7 linked regions of the Homo sapiens genome follow. The gene in region 1 interacts genetically with each later gene. Each region holds a gene or a part of one and is shown in the gene's direction. Other genes may lie near its edges. The genes, in order: RABGEF1, B3GNT2, SEC31A, VPS45, CAND1, SLC39A9 and DEPDC5.

The links.
Region 2: changes in RABGEF1 (region 1) and B3GNT2 together harm fitness more than expected from each alone (negative genetic interaction), as found in Homo sapiens cells (one large-scale study listed by BioGRID).
Region 3: changes in RABGEF1 (region 1) and SEC31A together harm fitness less than expected from each alone (positive genetic interaction), as found in Homo sapiens cells (one large-scale study listed by BioGRID).
Region 4: changes in RABGEF1 (region 1) and VPS45 together harm fitness less than expected from each alone (positive genetic interaction), as found in Homo sapiens cells (one large-scale study listed by BioGRID).
Region 5: changes in RABGEF1 (region 1) and CAND1 together harm fitness more than expected from each alone (negative genetic interaction), as found in Homo sapiens cells (one large-scale study listed by BioGRID).
Region 6: changes in RABGEF1 (region 1) and SLC39A9 together harm fitness less than expected from each alone (positive genetic interaction), as found in Homo sapiens cells (one large-scale study listed by BioGRID).
Region 7: changes in RABGEF1 (region 1) and DEPDC5 together harm fitness less than expected from each alone (positive genetic interaction), as found in Homo sapiens cells (one large-scale study listed by BioGRID).

Annotation. Positions count from the first base shown.
Region 1 is NC_000007.14:66,796,233-66,799,732, forward strand, and holds part of RABGEF1 (rab5 GDP/GTP exchange factor), read left to right. Parts: intron 1-385; exon of another isoform or gene 386-501; intron 502-543; coding exon of another isoform or gene 544-660; intron 661-1,141; coding exon 1,142-1,274; intron 1,275-3,090; coding exon 3,091-3,182; intron 3,183-3,500. UniProt on the Homo sapiens protein: Rab effector protein acting as linker between gamma-adaptin, RAB4A or RAB5A. Involved in endocytic membrane fusion and membrane trafficking of recycling endosomes. Stimulates nucleotide exchange on RAB5A. Can act as a ubiquitin ligase.
Region 2 is NC_000002.12:62,222,673-62,225,231, forward strand, and holds the end of B3GNT2 (N-acetyllactosaminide beta-1,3-N-acetylglucosaminyltransferase 2), read left to right. Parts: coding exon 1-742; 3' UTR 743-2,059; downstream 2,060-2,559. UniProt on the Homo sapiens protein: Beta-1,3-N-acetylglucosaminyltransferase involved in the synthesis of poly-N-acetyllactosamine. Catalyzes the initiation and elongation of poly-N-acetyllactosamine chains. Shows a marked preference for Gal(beta1-4)Glc(NAc)-based acceptors.
Region 3 is NC_000004.12:82,863,654-82,867,153, reverse strand, and holds part of SEC31A (protein transport protein Sec31A), read left to right. Parts: intron 1-193; coding exon 194-346; intron 347-2,555; coding exon 2,556-2,792; intron 2,793-3,500. UniProt on the Homo sapiens protein: Component of the coat protein complex II (COPII) which promotes the formation of transport vesicles from the endoplasmic reticulum (ER).
Region 4 is NC_000001.11:150,077,776-150,081,275, forward strand, and holds part of VPS45 (vacuolar protein sorting-associated protein 45), read left to right. Parts: coding exon 1-4; intron 5-3,500. UniProt on the Homo sapiens protein: May play a role in vesicle-mediated protein trafficking from the Golgi stack through the trans-Golgi network.
Region 5 is NC_000012.12:67,317,406-67,320,453, forward strand, and holds the end of CAND1 (cullin-associated NEDD8-dissociated protein 1), read left to right. Parts: 3' UTR 1-2,548; downstream 2,549-3,048. UniProt on the Homo sapiens protein: Key assembly factor of SCF (SKP1-CUL1-F-box protein) E3 ubiquitin ligase complexes that promotes the exchange of the substrate-recognition F-box subunit in SCF complexes, thereby playing a key role in the cellular repertoire of SCF complexes.
Region 6 is NC_000014.9:69,405,192-69,408,691, forward strand, and holds part of SLC39A9 (zinc transporter ZIP9), read left to right. Parts: intron 1-3,500. UniProt on the Homo sapiens protein: Transports zinc ions across cell and organelle membranes into the cytoplasm and regulates intracellular zinc homeostasis. Participates in the zinc ions efflux out of the secretory compartments.
Region 7 is NC_000022.11:31,841,019-31,844,518, forward strand, and holds part of DEPDC5 (GATOR1 complex protein DEPDC5), read left to right. Parts: intron 1-2,076; coding exon 2,077-2,194; intron 2,195-2,626; coding exon 2,627-2,794; intron 2,795-3,500. UniProt on the Homo sapiens protein: As a component of the GATOR1 complex functions as an inhibitor of the amino acid-sensing branch of the mTORC1 pathway.

The DNA of each region.
Region 1 (3,500 bases):
TAGTTTAAAAAAAAAAGAGCTTCAAGTTTTTAGGGATTCTTTATGGATTCAACCTTCACTGATACTAGACTTTAGGATATACTTAGCACATGTGTGTGTCAGAGAAATCTCCATTTGTATACCTCAGAGAGCTCTACGATGTTATGGTAAACCTCAGAAAAATGAAAGGATAAGTTTCATCAGCATTCATCAGTCTTGGGAGTTGCAAATGCCTTTGTAATGTAGGACAGGGAGTGACCTTGCTGAAGTCTCCCCATTTGGCAGGGTGTACACTGTTAGGTCCTGTCAGACAACTTCAGTTAGAACTGAGGTTGCTGTGGAAGGCAGCCCAACAGTTGGAAGAAGATTTTTTTGTTTGTTTGTTTGTTTGTTTTTGTCGAGACAGAATATCACTCTGTCGTCCAAGCTGGAGTACAGTGGTGTGACCTCGGCTCACTGCAACTCTGCCTCCCAGGTTCAAGTGATTCTCCTGTCTCAGCCCCCGAGTGGCTGGGATTACAGGTGCGTGCCACCACACCCAGCTAATTTTTGTATTTTTATTAGAGAGGAGATTTCACCATGTTGGCCAGGCTGGTCTTGAACTCCTGACCTCAGGCGATCCACCTGCCTCAGCCTCCCAAAGTGCTGGGAATACAGGAGTAGAGCCACCGCACCCAGCTGGTAAGTTTTTTTTTTAAGCGTATTTTTAAATATAACATTCTTATACTTTTGTTCTGAGTGTGTTTAATTTATTTCTAGTAAATTAGTTTTTTGCTGTGTAGACAGTGCTATGAAAATATACTCTTGGCCGGGCATTCTGGCTCACACCTATAAACCTAGTACTTTGGGAGGCTGAGGCAGGTAGATTGCTTGAGCCCAGGAGTTCGAGACCAGCCTGGGCAACATGGTAAAACCCCATCTCCACAGAAAAAACCTACAAAAATTATTCAGGCATGGTGGCGTGTGCCTGTGATCCCAGCTACTTGGGAGGCTGAGGTAGGAGAATGGCTCGAGCCCAGGAGGTGGAGGTTTCAGTGAGCCAAGGTCATGCTGCTGCACTCCAACCTGGGCGACAGAGCCAGACTCTTTGTTTGCAAAAAAAAAAAAAAAGAGAGAGAAAAAATATATATATCTTGATCTTTTCTCTGTCTGGTTATTTCAGTGCCTCCAGAAAGAGTCGAGAAGATAATGGATCAGATTGAAAAGTACATCATGACTCGTCTCTATAAATATGTATTCTGTCCAGAAACTACTGATGATGAGAAGAAAGATCTTGCCATTCAAAAGAGAATCAGGTAGTTGCTTATTTTGTTTTGCTTTGTAGTTACTACCTTCTAATGGAAGAACACACTGGGGGGAAAATAATGCACCTGTGTTTCAAACCTTAAGGGAAAGCAATAGCTCATGTTCCTGCTTCCTTAGAGTGGAAGCAGCTCTGTTGTGTAAGAAAGACGAGGAATGTGGTGACCTCACCTATCCATCTCCCTCAAGGCAGCTTTTGGTAAGAGTTGTGTTTGGTGTTTGAGATTGTTTTCAATCCCTGAAATCTCCAAGGAATAGGGGGACTGTGTTCTTGGTCCATTACCATCTCCTCAAGTGGGAAGCTGTGAATATCGGTATCAAGGCAGGGGATGTCGGCTGGGCCCGGTGGCTCATACCTGTAATCCCAGCACTTTGGGAGGATCACTTGAGGCCAGGAGTTCAAGAGTAGCCCAGGCAACGTGGTAAAACCCCGTCTCTACTAAAAATACAAAAATTAGCCAGGCATGGTGGCGCACGCCTGTGATCCCAGCTACTTGGGAGGCTAAGGCACGAGAATGGCTTGAATCCAGGTGGCAGAGGTTGCAGTGAGCTGAGATCATGCTACCACACTCCAGCCTGGGCAACAGAGCAAGACTCCTTCTCAAAAAAATAACAAGTCAGTAGATGTCCTCTTTCCTCATTCCTCCCAGGGGTGTGCATTTTTCAGCATTCCCTAGTCACATCTTTCACTGGCATTGGATTGATGACATTTCCCACAGCACCCAGTCTTCCAGGCTCACTGGGGTGAGCCCCAGCACTGTGTACTCCAGTTGCGGTGGACACTGAGGAAGAGACCACCCAAGTGTGGGAACAGGGCCAAGGCTGAGCTGATGAGGTGTTTTAAGGGGAGAAGGGACTCGGAGTCCCAGGTTCCAGACAAGGGGCTGGTACTTGCTAGATCTGTATTGGAAGTTTCATAGCTGAAGTGAGGAGTTGATACTGGGCAGGCTGAAGATGTGGAGCCCAAGGTCAGGAGCCAGAAGTAACTAGAGGGGCCCTGGACCAAGATGCAGAACAGAAGCAGTAACCAAGCAAGAGGGCAGGCCTGCTGCAGGGTAGTTGGAGTGCAGTTAGGGTGGGACCAGGAAACACACAGTGATTCAGGCATGGTGGTCCTGCCCGTGGCCTCCTATACAAGCTCCAGTGTGCCTCAGAAGTTGAGGGTTGAGGCCAGGTGTGGTGGCTCGCACCTGTAATCCCAGCACTTTGGGAGGCCAAGGCAGGCAGATCACCTGAGGTCAGGAGTTTGAGACCAGCCTGGCCAGCAGGGTGAAACCCTGTCTCGTAAAAGTACAGAAATTAGCTGGGCATGGAGGTGGGCGCCTGTAGTCCCGGCTGCTTGGGAGCCTGAGGCAGGAGAATTGCTTGAACCCAGGATGCAGAGGCTGCAGTGAGCCAAGATTGGCACTCCAGCCTGGGCAAGAGTGAGACTCCATCTCAAAAAAGAAAGAAGTTGAGGACTGAGTGTAAAAGGACATTAACGCAGTAGGCAGCGAGGACAGGCAGCAGCCAATTCTCAAATGGTCACTTTCAGATACTGAGTGCATTTCAGTCTTGGTAGCACTGCGTAATGTCATTTCAGTCAGCAAGATGGCCTTCCATTCTTGTGATAAATGCAGAAGTCTCATTTTAGGATCCTAGCTGCTTCATCACGTCATTAGAGCTCGTAGTACTTGCAGGGGTGATGTGTGTGGGCCTGGGATTGAGTGGTCAGTGATGCCTCAGGCTTTCCCTAAACTGAAGGAGGTGACAAGACAAATGGCCACAGTTTATCCTTGGAGCTCTTGTTTACTGTCTCTCTCTCTTTAGAGCCCTGCGCTGGGTTACGCCTCAGATGCTGTGTGTCCCTGTTAATGAAGACATCCCAGAAGTGTCTGATATGGTGGTGAAGGCGATCACAGGTCAGTGAAACCAAGAGCCTTTTTATTGGGATGTTTTCCCCTTAAAGTTAACATTTTACTGTAATATTCATCTATACATTTGTAAAATGCAGATTGTCGAAGGTACATTGGAATGTAGTAAAAGTGATTTGTAAGATTGTTTTATGAATTTGATGGCATTCAGAAGAGCAGGTTCTCTTTTACCCCTTTATTTTCAGGGATTATGGTCTCGTTTCTTGGGCATTAAACTAAACTAAGGTCAAATGCAGATAGAATAAATTTTTTTTCTTTTTTTTGTACTTCTTTTTTTATTTAGTTTTTATTCAGCTGACTGTTCCA
Region 2 (2,559 bases), on another chromosome or scaffold:
CACTCCACATTTTGCCAGAAGGCAAGCAATCCGGGAATCCTGGGGCCAAGAAAGCAACGCAGGGAACCAAACGGTGGTGCGAGTCTTCCTGCTGGGCCAGACACCCCCAGAGGACAACCACCCCGACCTTTCAGATATGCTGAAATTTGAGAGTGAGAAGCACCAAGACATTCTTATGTGGAACTACAGAGACACTTTCTTCAACTTGTCTCTGAAGGAAGTGCTGTTTCTCAGGTGGGTAAGTACTTCCTGCCCAGACACTGAGTTTGTTTTCAAGGGCGATGACGATGTTTTTGTGAACACCCATCACATCCTGAATTACTTGAATAGTTTATCCAAGACCAAAGCCAAAGATCTCTTCATAGGTGATGTGATCCACAATGCTGGACCTCATCGGGATAAGAAGCTGAAGTACTACATCCCAGAAGTTGTTTACTCTGGCCTCTACCCACCCTATGCAGGGGGAGGGGGGTTCCTCTACTCCGGCCACCTGGCCCTGAGGCTGTACCATATCACTGACCAGGTCCATCTCTACCCCATTGATGACGTTTATACTGGAATGTGCCTTCAGAAACTCGGCCTCGTTCCAGAGAAACACAAAGGCTTCAGGACATTTGATATCGAGGAGAAAAACAAAAATAACATCTGCTCCTATGTAGATCTGATGTTAGTACATAGTAGAAAACCTCAAGAGATGATTGATATTTGGTCTCAGTTGCAGAGTGCTCATTTAAAATGCTAAAATAGATACAAACTCAATTTTGCATAGAAAGGTGTATTTTGAATAGTTCCCATGTTGTGTTCTCACATTAGAGTAATTTCTATATTAAACCATGAAAATTGCCTTTATGAGTGATACCCATTTGAGGGCCTCTAAACCCTTCAATTTGGTACTCACGTGAAGAGGGAAAGCGGAAGATGGTAATTTTTTTTTATGGATGATATGGCAGGATGATTGGTTCTGATCTTACCGGCTAGTGGTCATTTTTAAAAAACTTGTACCCTCTTATCTGAAATCCTGTTTCTGGAATTTGGCCATTTTAAGTGATTTTGTTTGCCCTCTTCTATAATATTCCTACTTCCCATAATAATGACTGATTTATTTGTAATTCAGGTATTTATAAACCTATTGGCTACAAAGACTTTGTTAAACATTATCCAGTGGTTTTCGTGAAATGGAATTATGTTTATTTTTATGGGATTTGGGTAAATTTTAAATTGTCTAGAAAACTGAAATTTCAGTTGTCAGTTGTGGAATTCAGTTTTTCAATTGTGGAAATTTCCTGCCACCCCAACAGTATTTTTGTGTGTTAATTAATTTTGCAAAATGAGAATCATGGTGTGACACTCATCTAATTTATCTTGTTGTGATGTTATGGTCATAATAAGGAGAAAGAGGGTTTAATTTTTCTTGTATTTGGTTTCCTGGTGGTATCATAGTGTAATTTTAGTATTTGAAAATCAGTGTGATTCCTTAATGGCCAACTGAAGATTGAATTGCCGCTAACAACCATATCGTGTTAGTGAATTTTCAATATGGACCAGGAAGGCATATGTATTTTGAACTTGAGTGAAAAGGTTGAAGTTACAGACTTTTGCATAGATGGTTTGTCAATTTAAAATTCCAGAATTTATTATTGCCATATTTTCACATGCTGCTTATACAAGATTATTATTGAGTAGTAACTGCTTCCCTGTCTATGTAGAAGTGCCTGTGTTTTTATTTATTGTTCAGATCAAAGACCAAAACATTTTCTTAAATATATTTTATGTAATATTTTATTTGTATACAGTGTTGTTGATGAAATATTTAACTAGAGCATGATATTTTAAATGTTAAGGTGTAACATATGTTAAATAAAACTGTTATTTTTGAATTTTAAAATTTGTTTTTTGGGGGTATGAACTACTAGAGTTTAAAATTCTGCCAAACTATTACTTATATGTACTATTGTGTAACATACTTTCTTGAAATATTTTTGTTTATAGAATTGAAGGTTCTTATCAGATGGGATACTGGGGACTATAAACAATGGAAATAAAGCCACTGTATTTTTAATTTTTTGTGTAATGTGTAATCTATAATCCTTTTGTTTCCCATATTTGAGAACATTTTTCCCTGAAAGAGGCCAGTTTCCTCCCCAGAAACCATTACAGTAGTGTTGAACTATCACTGTCTCTCAGTGCGTCATCCATCTTTGCATTTAAAATCCCCAAAGTGCTTTCCCATTTAAAGTCTTTAAAGAAAAGTGAGAATATTTATTTATGCTTCCATTTTCAGTGAGTATAAATAATTTAATTAGGGAGTGGTGTGGCATTGTAAAGATTGTGTTATCCTAAGCCATTTCTATTTTGGAGTTTGTAGCCACAAAGATGAAATATAGAATCAGCCTTGACTACTCAATTTCCTTTCATAGACCCATGTTGAGAAGACACTACTAACGTCCAGTGGGAAACAAGTAGACAATTGATGAAGCTCAAAAAACAGAAGGGTTAGTGTTGTAAGAGCAAACAGTCTAATCCTGTTTGGAATGTGGAAGCCATTTCTGAGCAAGTATG
Region 3 (3,500 bases), on another chromosome or scaffold:
TAATAGGAAGTGTTAAAGTTTTCTATTATAATGCCTGAAAAAAGTATGTGTTGTGTAATATTTTGAAATGACTTCACTGATTAACAATGCTGGTTAATTGGACAATTGTGATCAAAAATTTTTTTGGATATGACTGGAAAAAAATGAAACTTTGTGTATGGTCGGATGCTTATGTTATTATTATCTTTTTTAGCTTTCATCATCTTTTGGGAATCTTGATCCCTTTGGCACAGGACAGCCCCTTCCTCCGTTACAAATTCCACAGCAGACTGCTCAGCATAGTATAGTGCTGCCTCTGAAGAAGCCGCCCAAGTGGATTCGAAGGCCTGTTGGTGCTTCTTTTTCAGTAGGTGGATTTTGTTTTTATGGTCCATAGGCACAAAGGACTTTTTATACCAAAGTGTTATTATAGAGTCACTCTGATGGAAGCAATCAGGGTTTAAGTTGGGATTTGAGATGTACTTGTGGGTATTTCATCATTCAAAATGGTTTCTCTGAAAAATTGGAACCTACTCTTTTTTTTCCCTTTTTTAAAAATCATGGTAAAATATACATAAAATTGATCATTTTGTTCATTTTTAAATATACAGTTCAATGGCATTAAGTACATTTACATTGTTGTTGTGTAGCCAACACTTTATATTCCTCCCCTCCTCCATTTTTTTGTTTGTTTGTTTGTTTTTTTGAGACAGTCTCACTCTGTTGTACAGGCTGGAGTGCAGTGGCACAACCTTGGCTCACTGCAACCTCCGCCTCCTTGGTTCAAGCGATTCTCCTGCCTCAGCCTCCTGGGTAGCTGGGATTACAAGCACGTGCCACCACACCTGGCTGGTTTTTGTATTTTTAGTAGAGATGGGGTTTTACCATGTTGACTGGCCTGGTCTTGAACTCCTGACCTCAGGTGATCCACCCGCTTCGGCCTCCCAAAGTGCTGGGATTACAGGCATGAGTCACTGCACCCGGCCCTCCTCCCTTTTAAATTTGTCTTCCTTCTCTCTCTCTCTGTCTCTCTTTCCCTCCCTCTGTCTCTCTTTCCCTCCCTCCCTCCCTTCTTTTTCTTTTCTTTTCTTCTTTTTTTCTTTTCTTTTTGCAGGGAGTGTCCTCCCTCTTCTTCATCCTTTTAGCTTTCTTTTTTAATTGCCAGCTTTTTTTAATGGTAAAAAATGCATAATATAAAATTTTAATTGTAAAAAATGCATAATATAAAATTTACTATCTTAACCATTTTAAAATATACACTACAACCATTTTTAAATATATACTACAGTAGTGTTAACTATATACACGTTGTTGTGCAACAGATCTCTAGAACTTTCTCATCTTGCAAAACTGAAACTCTGTGCCCTTGAACAACAGCTCCCCATTTCCTGTTTCCCTTGAATCCCTGGTAACCACATTCTACTTTGTTGCTAGGAGTTTTCTACTTTAAATTACTCATATAAATGGAATCATGCAGTACTTGTCTTTTTGTGGCTGGCTTATTTTACTTAGCTTAATGTCCTCAAGGTTTATCTGTGTTGTAGTGTGACAGAATTTACTTCTTTTTAGAGGCCAAATAATATTGCATTGTATATATATATATATATATATATATATATATATATATATATATATATACCACATTTTTTTTTATCCATTCATTTGATGGTCATTTTGGTTGCTTCCACCTTTTGGCTATTGTGAATAAATGCTGTGGTGAACATGGGTTTGTAATTATCATTTTGGGATCCTGCTTTCAGTTTTTTGGGACATATACCCAGAAGTGGGATTGCTGGATCATAGGATGGTTCTATTTTTAAGTTTTTGAAGAACCTCCATACCATTTTATAGCCGTTTTACCATTTTACATTCTCACTAGTGGTGCACAAGGGTTCTAGTTTCTCCACATCCTCTCTAGCACTTTTTGTTTGTTTCTTCCTTTTACATTGCTGATACCTTGCCTAATTCTTTCATGCCAAACTTCTAATAGCTTGATTTCATATTTGTTGCTTGTCTTTTCCCCCTCTAATCTCTACTACATATTCCAAGATTAATCTTCCTAAAATGGACCTTTGAATATGTTTTATGTCACTCGTAAGTCTGTTCTTTGGATCTGCTTAATCTTCTCATCGTCCTATCTGGTCTTCTCTATCTGGGTGGATCACTTGAGGTTAGGAGTTCAAGACCAGCCTGGCCAACATGGTGAAACCCTGTCTACTAAACATACAAAAGTTAGCCAGGCATGGTGGCCGGCACCTGTAATCCCAGCTACTCAGGAGGCTGAGGCAGGAGAATCACGTGAACCCAGGAGGCAGAGGTTGTAGTGAGCCAAGATCCCACCTTTGCACTCCAGCCTGGGTGACTAAGAGCGAAACTCTGTCTCAAAAAAAAAAAAACCAAAAAACCAAAAAAGTACATTTCATCTAGAACAGAAATTGAAGTGGTGTCAGACTGTGGCGCATGAGAGGTTGTATCAACTAATTTCATCCAGATTATCTGTTTAGGCCACTTTATAAGCACTTTTTTTGGCCATATCCTTGGGTTAACACTGAGTTTGTTCATTCTCTCTTTTATAGTTTGGAGGCAAACTGGTTACGTTTGAGAATGTCAGAATGCCTTCTCATCAGGGAGCTGAGCAGCAGCAGCAGCAGCACCATGTGTTCATTAGTCAGGTTGTAACAGAAAAGGAGTTCCTCAGCCGATCAGACCAACTTCAGCAGGCTGTGCAGTCACAAGGATTTATCAATTATTGCCAAAAAAAAATTGATGCTTCTCAGACTGAATTTGAGAAAAATGTGTGGTCCTTTTTGAAGGTAAAGTTGCTGTTTAAAGCTATATTATTTCATTATCTGCAAATTTAACTGTTCCTTTATATTCTAAATCTGTCCTCCTATTAAAGAAACAATTGAAAAAGTGTGATTTCAGCAATTCATCATGAAATTAAGAAGCCTTATAAAGAGCATACAACCTAACTTATGTCCAGAGTTTTTCCTTCTCTGCTTTGAAAAGTGTAATATGAAATACATTTTTAATAAGTAAAAAAAAATAATAATAGGTCTGTTTAGAGGAGAGCGACATAGTCAGCACACCTATTTTGAAGATGAGTACATAGAGTTTACTATAATGAAAACAGAATATTTAACATCTATAGTAGATCTAGTTAAGGAAAATGAAAAAAGAGGAAGAGGAATAGAGGAGAGAGGTTGGAGGCATTTTTCCTTTTACTTTAAGAGGAGTTAGATTAGAATAACAAATAGAATTTCCTGGTTGGTCATTTTGCCTCCACTGGAATGTCTGTTTCTTTATACGGTACTGGTTTTTCAAAGGTAAAGCAGTCTTGAATACAGTTAGGTTAAAGTATAAAATTAAAGAATTTATATTTTGTAATAATTTTGGGAAAGAATTTTAGGACATAGAATATTCCACATAGTTTGAGTTTTGTATCAGTTTAACCTTTGGACATAAGTTTGTATTTACAGAAATTACTGTTCAAAAGTAAGCTTTATTCAACCAGGATAATT
Region 4 (3,500 bases), on another chromosome or scaffold:
CCAGGTACAAAACCCTTTCTTGGCATAATAGAAGGATAATTTTAAGTGATATTCATCAAAATACAGATAGGGAAGTAAAAACATGGTCCATTTATTTGCCTCCTTATTTTTAGCTATTCTTGGTTTTGCTTTGTATTTCCTGGTGTTTTGGTATCATGATTCTTCCATCCACTGTCATCATAACTCTTCTGCTTCATCTCTCCTGTACCTTTCTGCCAGTACCTCCACCCCTAATCAAGACAGCTTCTTAATTCTGTAGATTCTATTTCCCTGTGTTTCCTTCTGTCTCCTCATTTCCATGCTTACAGCCATTGCCTTGGTCTAGATCCTAATCTCTTGCAAGAATATTGAAATAGTCATCTACTTCGTTCCCTACTTTTTATTTCTTCTCACTCCAAATGTTCCACAAGTACAATTTCCTAAAGCACAGCTCTATCTTATTACTCTTGGCTTAAAAAACTTCATTGGTTCCCATTTGCCTACTAGGTTAAAAAGAAACTCCTGAACTTGGCATCCAAGAGCCTTCACAATGTGGGCTAAACCTCTTATAAAACCTAGAGTTCACCACTTACATAGATAATGCCACATGGTTTCCTGCCAGCATGCTTTTACTGTGACTGCTTTCTAAACTCTAGAATGTTTGGAATACCTTCTCTTCCCATCTTCACCTATCAAAATACTGCTGTTAAAACCACTCAATCTGGCCGGGCACGGTCGCTCACGCCTGTAATCCCAGCACTTTGGGAGGCCAAGGTGGCTGGATCACCTGAGGTCAAGAGTTCAAGACTAACCTGGCCAACATGGTGAAGCCCCGTCTCTACTAAAACTACAAAAAAATTAGCCGGGTGTGGTTGCACACACCTGTAGTCCCAGCTACTTGGGAGGCTGAGGCAGGAGAATCATTTGAACCCAGGAGGCGAAGGTTGCAGTAAGCTGAGATCATGCCACTGCACTCCAGCCAGGGCGACAGAGCAAGACTCCGTCTCCAAAAATAAATAAATAAATAAATAAAATGATTTATATGAATAATAGCAAAGAATAAAAAAAAGAAGAGCCGGGCGCGGTGACTCACACCTATAATCCCAGCACTTTGGGAGGTCGAGGTGGGTAGATCACCTGAGGTCCTGAGTTTGAGACCAGCCTGGCCAACATGATGAAACCCTGTCTCTACTAAAAATACAAAAAATTAGCTGGACGTGGTGGCAGATGCCTGTAATCCCAGCTACTCAGGATGCTGAGGCAGGAGAATCACTTGAACCTGGGAGGCAGAGGTTGCAGTGAACCGAGATCATGCCACTGTCCTCCAGCCTGGGCAACGAGAGCGAAACTCTTGTCTCAAAAAAAAAAAAAAACACTCAAAAGCCATCTCCAACATCCAGCCATTCTTCAACATCTCGAAGCCTGTATTCTTTCAGTCAGATATTGTTCTTATCTCCTGAAAATCCCTGTAGACTTGTAGACCTTTGTGTCTCTCTCATGTCTCATGCTGTACTTGCCATGTTGTAGCTTTGGTTGTTTACATCCTCTCCTACGTTACATATTTCTTCAAGGCAGACTGAGTCTCACCAGTGTTTTTTCTCCTTCAAGTATAAGAACAGTGCACATAGCGGGTGCTCTATTAATAGTGATTTTGTATGTGTGTATGTATTTATTGAGACAGAGTCTCTCTCTGTCACCCAGATTGGCGTGATCTCAGCTCACTGCAACCTCCGCCTCCCAGGTTCAAGCAATTCTCATGCCCCAGCTTCCTGAGTAGTTGGGATCACAGGTGCACACCCCCACACCTGGCTAATTTTTGTATTAAATATTTTTAGTACAGACAAGGTTTCTGTCTAAATATTGGCCAGGCTGGTCTCGAATTCCTGACCTCAAGTGATCTGCCCGACTCGGCCTCCCAAAGTGCTAAGATGACAGGCGTGAGCCACCACGCCCGGCTGTGACTTTGTATTTACAGAGAAAGGCACAGTCTATGTTTCAGTTTCTTCCCAGCTTGTACTAATGTTAATGCTAAGGGAAATCTGTGGAGTGAAACTTCTCTGTAGTATAAAATAGCCTTGTATTCCTAAAATTCAAAGTAATATATGTTCACCAAAGAAACTTTTGATAATATCAAAAAGTAGAAAGAAAATTAATTGCCTATTATTCTGTCTCCCAAAGAAAAGCAACTATTTATCCCACAGATTTCACTGGGGACTTCTTTTGTGCCACGTACTAAACTAAGTACTAGAGATAAAAGGTTAAAAGTTACAATTTCTGTCCTCAAAGAGCTCATGGTCCAATTATGAGAAAAATAAACATAATTTTAATTGTAGAGTAAGTGCTAGAAGCATGTACAAGAAGCTATCCATAAAAGCATAAAACATTTTGTTGTACGTTTTTTTTTTTTTGAGATGGAGTTTTGCTCTTATTGTCCAGGCTGGAGTGCAATGGTGTGATCTTGGCTCACTACAACCTCCGCCTCCTGGGTTCAAGTGATTCCCTGCCTCAGCCTCCTGAGTAGCTTGGATTACAGGCATGTGCCACCATGCTCGGCTAGTTTTGTATTTTTAGTAGAGATGGGGTTTCACCATGTTGGTCAGGCCGGTCTCGAACTCCCGACCTTAAGTGATCCACCCACCTCAGCCTCCCAAAGTGCTGGGATTACAGGCATGAGCCACCATGCCCAGCCTTGTTGTACTTATTTTAAGTGCGACTTAATGGAACTTGCTTTTTCAAGAATTCCTTTGGCAAATCTTTTAGGAAATAAGCACCTTCTTTTATAACCTTCTAAATTATTTCTTAATAAATCTAGTTTTCTTAAGATAAAATATGTATATAAATATTTCTAGCATTTAGATTCTAGATGCAGAAGGGAACATGCTAGAAAATACTTCATTTTGTCTAACAGACCTATGACTGAAAGTAATCTATTCTCCATAATTGGTGAAAAGGGAAAATTTGGAGATTTCTCATTTCCAGTTTTACCAAATAAATTCTCAATTTGTGAGACTGGAAACCAGTCCTTCCTCTCATCTCCCCTTAGGTAAAAATATAAAATAAAATGGGTTCAAAGGTAAGTTTCTGAATATCCCAGTGTTTTGATCAACTCACAAGGTTTTTCTGATAATATTAGTGTTCCCAGGACAAATATAGTACCACTCAGATCTGCAAGAACACACTTCTCATGCTGCAGAAAACCATAGAAGCATACAGGAAATGGTACAGCTTGTAACTGCAGTACCAATATAGCTCTATCTGTGAAGCCAAAAATATACTCTTAATTCACAGGCAAAAAATTGGAGCTAATAATAGCTCTAATTTGTTTTCTTTCTATCAAGAATATTAATCTTGCTGCCCTTTTTCCAAAAGTATGAAATCTAAAAGTATTTTGACTTTTCTTCAGTGTTTAATCAATTAAAATGACAGTCTTAATGCTTATAGCACAAAGTATGAATAAAATTTAACTCGAGAATCTTCATGTAAAGAAGACTAGTTAAAGAATGTTATCAGTTTTTATTTGT
Region 5 (3,048 bases), on another chromosome or scaffold:
TTATTGCAAGTGCCTCCTTGCCCAGCCACATGTTGTTGATTTCTTTTTTCTTTTTTTTTCTTTCTTAATTTTTTTTTTTTTTTTTTTTTTTGAGATTGATGGAGTCTTGCTTTGTCTCCCAGGCTGGAGTGCAGTGGCGCAATATCGGCTCACTGCAACCTCTGCCTCCCGGGTTCTAGCTATTCTCCTGCCTCAGCCTCCCAAGTAGCTGTGATTACAGGCGTGTGCCACCATGCCCAGCTAATTTTTGTATTTTTAGTAGAGATGGAGTTTTGCCATGTTGGCCAGGCTGGTTTCAAACTCCTGATCTTAGGTGATACACCCGCCTCGGCCTCCCAAAGTGCTGGGATTACAGGCGTGAGCCACGTCCCCCAGCCAGTTTCTTAATCTATACATCTAGCCCAGTCCATGCCCCTGTTTCAGACTATTATATCCAACCACCTGCTATACATCTCATAAAGGTATCTCAAACACAGCATATCTAAAGCTGAAGTCATCATCTTGCCCTGGTTTTTCCTGTCTCTTTGCTGATGGCATCCCATTTACCCAGTCATTCAAACTGGAAATCTAAAAGCCTCACTTAGCAAGAGTTTGGAGGCAGAATATGATAAAGAACAAGGACTCTGGGAGGCCAAGGCAGGTGGATTGCTTGAGGTCAAGAGTTCGAGACCAGTCTGGCCAACATGGCGAAACCCCGTCTTTGCTAAAAAAACACAAAGAAATTAGCTAGACGTGGTGGCACATGCCTGTAGTCCCAGCTGTGTGGGAGGCTGAGGCAGGGGAATTGCTTGAACCTGGGAGGTGGAGGTTGCAGTGACCCAAGATTGCATGCACCACTGCACTCCAGCCTGGGTGACAAAGCGAGACCCTGTCTCAAAAAAAACAAGGACTCTACAGATAGATAGACATCATATATCATATTAGTTTGAATCCTGGCTGTTAGCTGTTAGACTTGGGCAAATAATTTAACCTCAACTTTCCCTATCTATAAAATGGGAATTAAAATATTTGCACCTTATAGGGTTATTGTGAGGATTAAATAGGAACATTGTATAAAGCACTTAAAACAGTACCTGGGACATACTAAGTAATATAATTGTTAACTCTTACTAGCATTCTGTCCCTTTTATTTCCTAAATATCTCTCATGCCCATCTCCTAAATATCTCTTTCCTAAATATCTCTCATGCTTTTGGCTTAAGACCTCTTTTCCTCCTTATCTATTGACTGGACTGCGGCAAATGCCTGCTAATCGTTATTTTTGTGTTCATTCATTTAGCAAGCCAATTTATTACGCGCTTAGGGTGCTGCCAGGGCTACAAAAGCTGTTGAGACTGTACTTGATATGAAGAAGCTTGCTGATTATCATGGGAAGACTGACATAAGGAAGCACCATAAAATTCTGCTGTATGAGAGGTATACACGGGATACTGGGGGTTAATAATTGAGGGTATGGTCCATTCAACATGAGTGAGACAGAAACAATTCATAAAGGAGATGAAATGTCTTGAGGAATGAGCTCTTAGAAGAATAGTTTTCAAATGAGTGTGCATCACAGTCACCTGTAAGACTTATTAAAACAGATCGCTGGGCCCTACACCCAGAGGCTGTGGTTCAGTAGGCTGTAGTAAACCAGTAATTTGTATTTCTATGACGTTCCCAGGTTCTAATGCTGTTCCCCAAGGCCACACCTTGGAAACCACCACATTAAAATACCCAGAAGGCATTAATTCCCAGTCCTTCCTCTACACAGCTGCAAAACAATGGTCCTGACCATTTCATCTTTGCACTACATCCTTCACTGTCTCTCTTTTGCCCATAGGATAAGTACAAACTAGATCTGGTTACTGCCTGCCCCACCAGCCTCAGCATCTCTCACAACTAGGACTAACTTTTTCTTCTGACAACTATAAAATATTTCCCTTGCCTTCTCAAGTTTGCTCAAGGTCAAGTTATGCCTTTTGCCTGGAATGACTTGACTTCTCTTTTGTTTTACTTAGCTGGCTGCTTTTCATCTTGTAGGTTAGGTCAAGGACTCCAGGAAGTCTTCCCTGGACAAGTAATGAAGAGGGCATAATCCAAGGGCCAACTCCCATGTTTGGAACCTGACTCCATTTTCAGGCACGTAATATTGTCAAATTCCTTTTAAAAGCACCTGTCTGTCTGTTAACGTTGGTGCAGATACTGCTATTCCCCTCCTCCATACCATTGCTGATGGTTACTGAGGGTATGGGAAGGGCCGACTAGTCCAGCTGTTCACAAACAGCCCTTAATGTCAAACTGAATACTGCCAACGTAGTTCCAGTTTCTGTATCTAAAGACTCAGCTTGGAGTCACTTGTCTGGACTAAAAGTAACCCCTCCTTGTCTGGTTTGTGACTTTCTGTACTCTGATGCCCCCAGCTTTCTGCCTTCTAGAAATTTGTCAGAATTTCCAAAATTCTTGGGCCTTCCTTCTTGCTCTATATATGGTTTTGGATTCATTCCTTTTAAAAAATATTTACTGTCATTTCAGTAGAATTTTGACACAATAAATATAAGCACATCAGATTTTTTGCCATCTTGAAGCATCTGTTATTTCTTGGTCTTTGGTAATGCTTTACTGAGAAACATTATAATATAGTTGTAAAAGCTCAGGCTCTAAACCTGGGTTTAAATCTGGTTCTACCACTTCTTGAGAGTGGGACTTTGGGCAAATTATTAATGTATCTAGTGTTACCAGTGGAGGGGCTTGACTACGAATTGTCCAGGTCCTGGGCATTTTGAACAAAGAACTGAACAAAACGCGCAAAGTAGCAGAGGAATGAAATGCAGGAATGAAGCAGCAAAAGCAGGAATTTTATGAAAGCGAGAAAGCACTCTACTGGGTGGGAGTGGGCCTGAGCAAGTGGCTCAAGGGCCCAGTTACAAAGTTTTCTGGGCTTTAAGTATCCCATTTGAGGTTCTTATCATCTACCCCTTATCTGGATGAAGTATTTGGTCTGTGGCTAAAGGCTGAGGTGAATTGGCACCCTATGCACACGAAGAGATGGTCCCTGTGTGGCCCTCAG
Region 6 (3,500 bases), on another chromosome or scaffold:
CAACCAAACCATATCAGTGTCTGATTATAATAACTGACTCATTCATAATAAGTATCTTTAGGGGTTTGAGTTACCCGCAAATCAAAGGTTTATTGTGTCTGAAGAACAGATTTATTCAGTATGCTTCTGCCTCTACAATAGGTTCTCTTTGAAGTAGATTTAACAATGTTACATTTTTAAGGACTTTTATATTGTCTGGTACATTGCTCTTACCCTCTTATGGTAATACAAGAGATTTTATACCTGTTTGGAATTTCATTTGTAAATTCTAAGATTTGAGCCGGGCATGGTGGCTTATACCTGTAATCCCAGTGCTTTAGGAGGCTGAAGCTGGAAGTTTGCTTGAGGCCAGGAGTTTGAGACCAACCTGGGCAACAAGTGAGACCCTGTCTCAGATGAATGAACGTAAATTATAAAATTTTAAACTTTGCAATCTCAGTAAATTTATCCATATCTGGAAAGAAATCATCAGCTTGTCTTTTCTCAGATTGAACTACAGATTATTGTTTCATAAGGATCCTTGATAAAACTAAGTTTGGATCAAATAAAATCCGGTTGCAATATGATTCAATATTATTTTCCTGAAAAACTTTGTTTTCTCCAGGATACTATATTGATAAACATAATTAAGACTTATCTGCATAATAATATTAATAATGTTTATTGAGCTCTTTCTGTATACCAGGCAATGATATGCACTATCTTATTAATCCTCAGGACCAAGACTATGAGATACTGTTAAACCTCACTTTACAAATGAGCAAACTCAGGCTTGAAGAGGTCACAGACTCTGGTAGAGGTGTGATTTGGAACTAAGTCATTTTGATTCCTGTTGCCAAATCAGTCACTTGACTACTAAATGTTGCCTTTCCTAATGAATGCTGTGTAAAGAAGGAATGAAAATAGGATCTACCTAAATTGATGCCTTTAGCTCCCCAAATTAGGAACATCTTTCATACCTTCCACAGTATATCTCATGCTTTCTGCCTAGTCAGTGGAGTAGAACTTGAAACTCCAGAGGTAAACAGTCTCCAAATACCATTGAAACCTATAAGAAATAAGTTAATATGTCTTAGATGCCTTTTAAATTAACACCTGCCAATTTGGAATCTGAAGTAGTTCCTATTGTGAACTATCCAAGATGAATTTCACACTTGACATCCTCACAGGTTAGTCGTAAATTGTGCTGTTCAAGAAGTGACATCCTTTTCAAGAGAAGATGACATGAAATGGATTCAGAATGTTTCTGTATATGATAGTCTTAACCTCTCCTCTAATTAAAGAATTTAATGATGAGACTTTTGTTGAATGATAAGATCCCCTTCAGCTCAGTATGGAATTCCACACTGGGCTGAGCGCAGTGGCTCACGCCTGTAATCCCAGCTACTCGGGAGGCTGAGGCAGGAGAATTGCTTGAACCTTGGAGTCGGAGATTGCAGTGAGCTGAGATTGTACCATGGCACTCCAGCCTGGGCAACAGAGCGAGACTGTCTTAAAAAAAAAAAAAAAAAGTAGTAGTACTAAGTATGAGTACTGGTATTTCTTAAAACCTATAATGAAATTACAGAAATCTCAGTCTTCCTTGAATACTAATATTCAGTTTTTAACTTATTGAAATAAAATGGAAATAAATATTAGTTAGACTGGAAATTCTTTGTTTTTTTTTTTTTTTTTTTTGAGATGGAGTCTTGCTCTGTCGCCCAGGCTGGAGTGCAGTGGCGTGATCTCAGCTCACTGCAACCTCCCCTTCCCAGGTTCAAGCAATTCTCCTGCCTCAGCCCCCCCAGTAGATGGGATTACAGGTGCGTGCCACCATAACCAGCTAATTTTTTGTATTTTTAGTAGAGACAAGGTTTCACCATGTTAGCCAGGATGATCTGGATCTCCTGGCCTTGAGATCTGCCTGCCTCGGCCTCCCAAAGTTCTGGGATTACAGGCATGAGCCACCACACCCAGCCCTGGAAATTCTTACATGGAAATTCATTTTTAAATGAAAAGGTCTTGAGGGTAACTAATAGATAATTACATCAAACTATCTATTGCAAACCCTGTATTTATCTGACGTTAATTTCCTTCCTTCCTTTCTTTCCTTTCCTTCCTTCCCTTCCTTCCCTTCCTTCCTTCCTTCCTTCCTTCCTTTCTTCCTTCCTTTCTTCTTTCCTTCCTTCCAAATTTCACTCTTGTTGCCCAGGCTGGACTGCAATGGCATGATCTTGACTCACCATAACCTCCGCCTCCCAGGTTCAAGTGATTCTCCTGCCTCAGCCTCCCAAGTAGCTGGGATTACAGGCATGCACCACCACGCCCCACTAATTTTGTATTTTTAGTTAGAGACAGGGTTTCTCCATGTTGGTCTCAAACTCCTTACCTCAGGTGGTCTGCCCGCCTAGGCCTCCCAAAGTGCTGGGATTACAGGCGTGAGCCACTGCGCCCGGCCAATTTTCTTTCTTTTTTTTTTTATTTTGAGACAGAATTTTGCTGTTGTTGCCCAGGCTGGAGTGCAATGGCACGATCTCGGCTCACTGCAACCTCCTCCTCTCAGGTTCAAGAGATTTTCCTGCCTCAGCCTCCCAAGTAGCTGGGATTACAGGCGCCTGCCACCATGCCTGGCTAGTTTTGTAGTTTTAGTAGAGACAGGGTTTTTCCGTGTTGGTCAGGCTAGTCTTGAACTCCCGACCTCAGGTGAATCCGGCCTCCCAAAGTGCTGGGATTACAGGCATGAGCCACCGCACCCGGCCCTGCTATTATATTCTTTACGGTTCTCTCTTAGTCAATTCCTCATCATTCTAGTCCCCTTTTATGCTTTTATAGGTATTCCTTTTTTCTTTCTTTCTTATTTTGAGATGGAGTCTTGCTCTGTTGCCCAGGCAGGAGTGCAGTGGTATGATCTTGGCTCACCACAACCTCTCTCTTTGGGTTCAAGTGATTCTCCTGCCTCAGCCTCCCAAGTAGCTGAGATTACGGCTGCCTACCAACACGCCCGGCTAATTTTTGTATTTTTGGTAGAGACAGGGTTTTGCCATGTTGGCCAGGCTGTTCTCAAACTCCTGACCTCAGTTGATCAGCCCGCCTTGGCCTCCGGAAGTGCTGGGATTACAGGTATGAGCCACCATGCCCAGCCCCCTTTTGTAGGTATTCTTTATGTTAAACTTTCTCTCTTCAAATTACTTTATGCTTTCTCTTTGATGAAAGGACCCTGACTGATAGAGGTAGGTAATGGATCATAAAATCAAATAAGGCTGAACAGAGAATTAAGCCTGGAGTAAAATAAGACAGCCCCAGTGTCATGATATATGGCAGCTGACCTTCAGTGTCAGTGCCTGGGAGTCATTAGGGAGAAGTGAGAACTGTGGGCATCTAAAGGGCACATATCATTTGATGACACCAAATCTTCCTATTTTTCCAAAGCTAGAAATCTGGATTTTTATATGAAGTCTCCTGAATTTTATCCTTTGGCTACTTATTCAAATATTGTATCAGTGCGTGGGCCAAACAACCCA
Region 7 (3,500 bases), on another chromosome or scaffold:
CAGATGCTCATGAACCTTGTCCCATGGCATTGTCTTCCCAACAGCCAGCAGAGTGTTTGTTGCATGAATGAAGAAGGAATGCTTGGATGAGGGCTTGCCCTCTTTCTTGCTGTAGAAAGTGAGATTTGGTGCCCAAGATCACACAAGCTGGCAAGTGAAAGTGCTGGGGTTGGACCTGGGGTCCCCTGAGTAGCTTCTGTTTTGTATGCAGCTGGCCTGCTACTCCCTTGGCACCATCGGGGAAATTTCCACATTCACAGTGAATATTATTTCAGCCTCTGCTGTCCTCCTCTCTCCTCTTGACCGCTCACATGCTGCCTGTCACTGTGTGACTGTCTCAGAGCTGAATGAGTGTTACCAGTGGAAGGTGTCCAGGTTCTTGGCACCTCAAAGAGTTGGACAAAATGCACAAACAAAGCAAGGAAAGAATGAAGCAGCAAAAGGAGAGATTTATTGAAAATGAAAGTACACTCCACAGTGTGGGAGTGAGCTGGAGCATAGGGGCTCAAGGGCTCCTTTACAGAATTTTTTAGGGTTTAAATACCTTCTAGAAGTGTCCCGTTGGTTACTTGGTGTACACGCTATGTAAATGAAGTGGTGGCTCGCAATCAGTCTGATTGGTTGCTGAAGTGAAGTTACAAAGTTACACTTCTATGCAAACGTCTGTTTGGTTGTAAAAATCAAACCAATCAGAGACACTTTCAGTTTTCCATCTGCCTCACAGAAAAAGCGGAGAGTGGTTTGTGAAGGGAGTAACCTCCGGTCCTTTTGTTACTTAGGTGTGGAAAGTTGGGGTTTTCCTTTTGATTTAGTTCTAGGAAGTCAGCCTGAATTAGTCTTAGGTTCCCTGCCTCCAGACCCTGTTCTCCTGCCTCAAGAGGACTGCCTTTCATTTCTAGATCAAAGGAATCTTGGCTTGGCTTGGTTGTTCTTTGAGGCATGATTTTTACTCTCTTGAACACTTGTCATTTTCTTGATTCCTGATTATTTTCCTCTTTCCTGCGTTCAGTTCAGTTCAGCTAATACTGGACATGGCACTTTATCAGGTGCTTCTAAAAATGTAAGGAGGAACAACGTTTGAGCCCTGGCCTCCTGGAAGTTTTAATTTGTAAGGGGTGACAGATATACGCACAAGGAACTATATACAAGGTAGGATTCAGACTGCTGATGGGGCCTGATGGCTTTCTGGAAGAAGTAGCATTTGATGGTGACTTCAGATGATCTGGGATTTCAGTGGTGGCCCAGGAAGAGAATGCAAAAGAAACAACATGAGCAGGCTGAGCACGGTGGCTCACGCCTGTAATCCCAGCACTTCGGGAGGCCGAGGCGAGTGGATCATCTGAGGTTGGGAGTTCAAGACCAGCCTGACCAACATGGAGAAACCCCGTCTCCACTAAAAATACGAAATTAGCCTGGGGTGGTGGAGCGTGCCTGTAATCCCAGCTACTCGGGAGGCTGAGACAGGAGAATTGCTTGAACCCAGGAGGTGGAGGTTGCAGTGAGCCGAGATCGGGCCATTGCACTCCAGCTTGGGCAACAAGAGCGAAACTCCATCTCAAAAAAAAAAAAAAAAAAAGAAACAACATGAGCAAATATTTGCAGCAAATCAATAAATGGTCCTTTTAGACTGAAACTTGGTATAGCAGTTTAGGATTAGTGAGAGCTAGGACCAGAAAGCTAGGTTGGCTGCCACCTTGGAGTGAGAACCTCGAATGCCAAGGTGGGCAGCTTATGCTGGTGTAGTAGAGTTCCATTTTAGTAACACAGTCATCTCTTACAGAACTTTCCTCTCCAGAGGATGAGGTATCAGGTTGTTCAGCTTTGAGTGTGCCATCTAGGTGCTATCAGCTAGCACCTTCAGGCTCTAATCTGCTCCTGGTTGGTTTAATAACAGAAAAATCTGCCAACCTCAGGAGTTTTTTGTTTGTTTTTTTTAACCAAGAATAACTTTCTTCCATGAAACTGCCCCTAAGAGAAAGTGTTACATTGTTTTCTGAATCTATATGGATGAGAAACAATTGTCTGTTATAGGAATGAGCTTCAAACAGATGGAGGAAATTATTATTTTTCTGTTAGGCCTTGTGTCCCGAAACCGCCCTGAGGAGGAGGACCAGTATTGGCTGAGTATGGGCAGAACGTTCCACAAAGTGACGCTGAAGGATAAGATGATCACAGTGACGCGATACCTTCCCAAGTGAGTATTTGGATATTTAAAGTCTTCAGTTATTGTCCTGAATTATGGCCACATACTAAATTGTGTGTATAGTACATCATTCAAACTGAGGAAGTTCAGTGGTTGGTTTTTCTTTTGGAGTTTTGTTTGTTTGTTTCTAGGGTTATTTTAGGGTTATAGCTTACCTACTTCCAAAAGGGATTTGATTCATCTTATAATGTTTAGCATGATTCATGACAAGCCTATTTCAAATAAAGATTGTGAGGAGAGAAGAAGGAAAGAGTTTAAGAAGATCTGAGAAATTTCTAGTACCGTTCCCTGGGATAAGTTGGTTACTACAGTTGAGGGGTAAATGTCAAGGATGGTTCTAAGTGTATAGAGATAGAAAATAAGAATTGGCAGGAATTTGTCTCTAACTCTTTTGAATTTGGGGACCTGCCCTTTATTTTGCAGGTATCCTTATGAATCTGCCCAGATCCACTACACCTACAGCCTCTGTCCTTCCCACTCAGACTCAGAGTTCGTCTCCTGCTGGGTGGAATTCTCCCACGAACGGCTGGAGGAGTACAAGTGGAATTACTTAGATCAGTATATCTGTTCTGCCGGCTCTGAAGACTTCAGGTCAGAGAGTGGGCTTTGGATTTCCATCTTTGCATCCTTGGGCAAGGATGTGTATGTGTATTTTAACACTTTCTGCCCTTTCTCTCTCTCTCCCTTTTTCTTTTTTTTTTTCTTTGTAAAGAGACAGGGTTGACTGGGCGCGGTGGCTCATGCCTGTAATCCCAGCAATTTGGGAGGCCGAGGTTGGCAGATCACCTGAGGTCAGGAGTTCGAGACCAGCCTGGCCAGCATGGCAAAATCCTGTCTCTACTAAAAATACAAAAATTAGCTGGGTGTGGTGGTGCGTGCCTGTAATCCCAACTACTTGGGAGACTGAGGCTGGAGAATCGCTTGAACCCAGGAGGTGGAGGTTGCAGTGAGCCAAGATCAAGCCATTGCACTCCAGCCTGGGCAACAAGAGTGAAACTGTCTCAAAAAATAAATAAATAAAAAAAAATAAAATTAACTGGGCATGGTGACATACCCCTATAGTCCTAGCTACTCAGGAGGCCGAAGTGCTTGAGCCCAGGAGGTCGTGGCTACAGTGAGCCTTGATAGTGCCACTGCACCCTAGCCTGGGCAACACAGCAAGACCTTGTCTCAAAAAAATAAAATAGGTTAATGTGATAAATTTTTTGTTATGTGTATTTTGCCACAGTTGAAAAAACAAACCCCATGAAGCTCAGGGATGACGTGCCCTTGATGCAAGTGGCAGTGCAGATTGCCT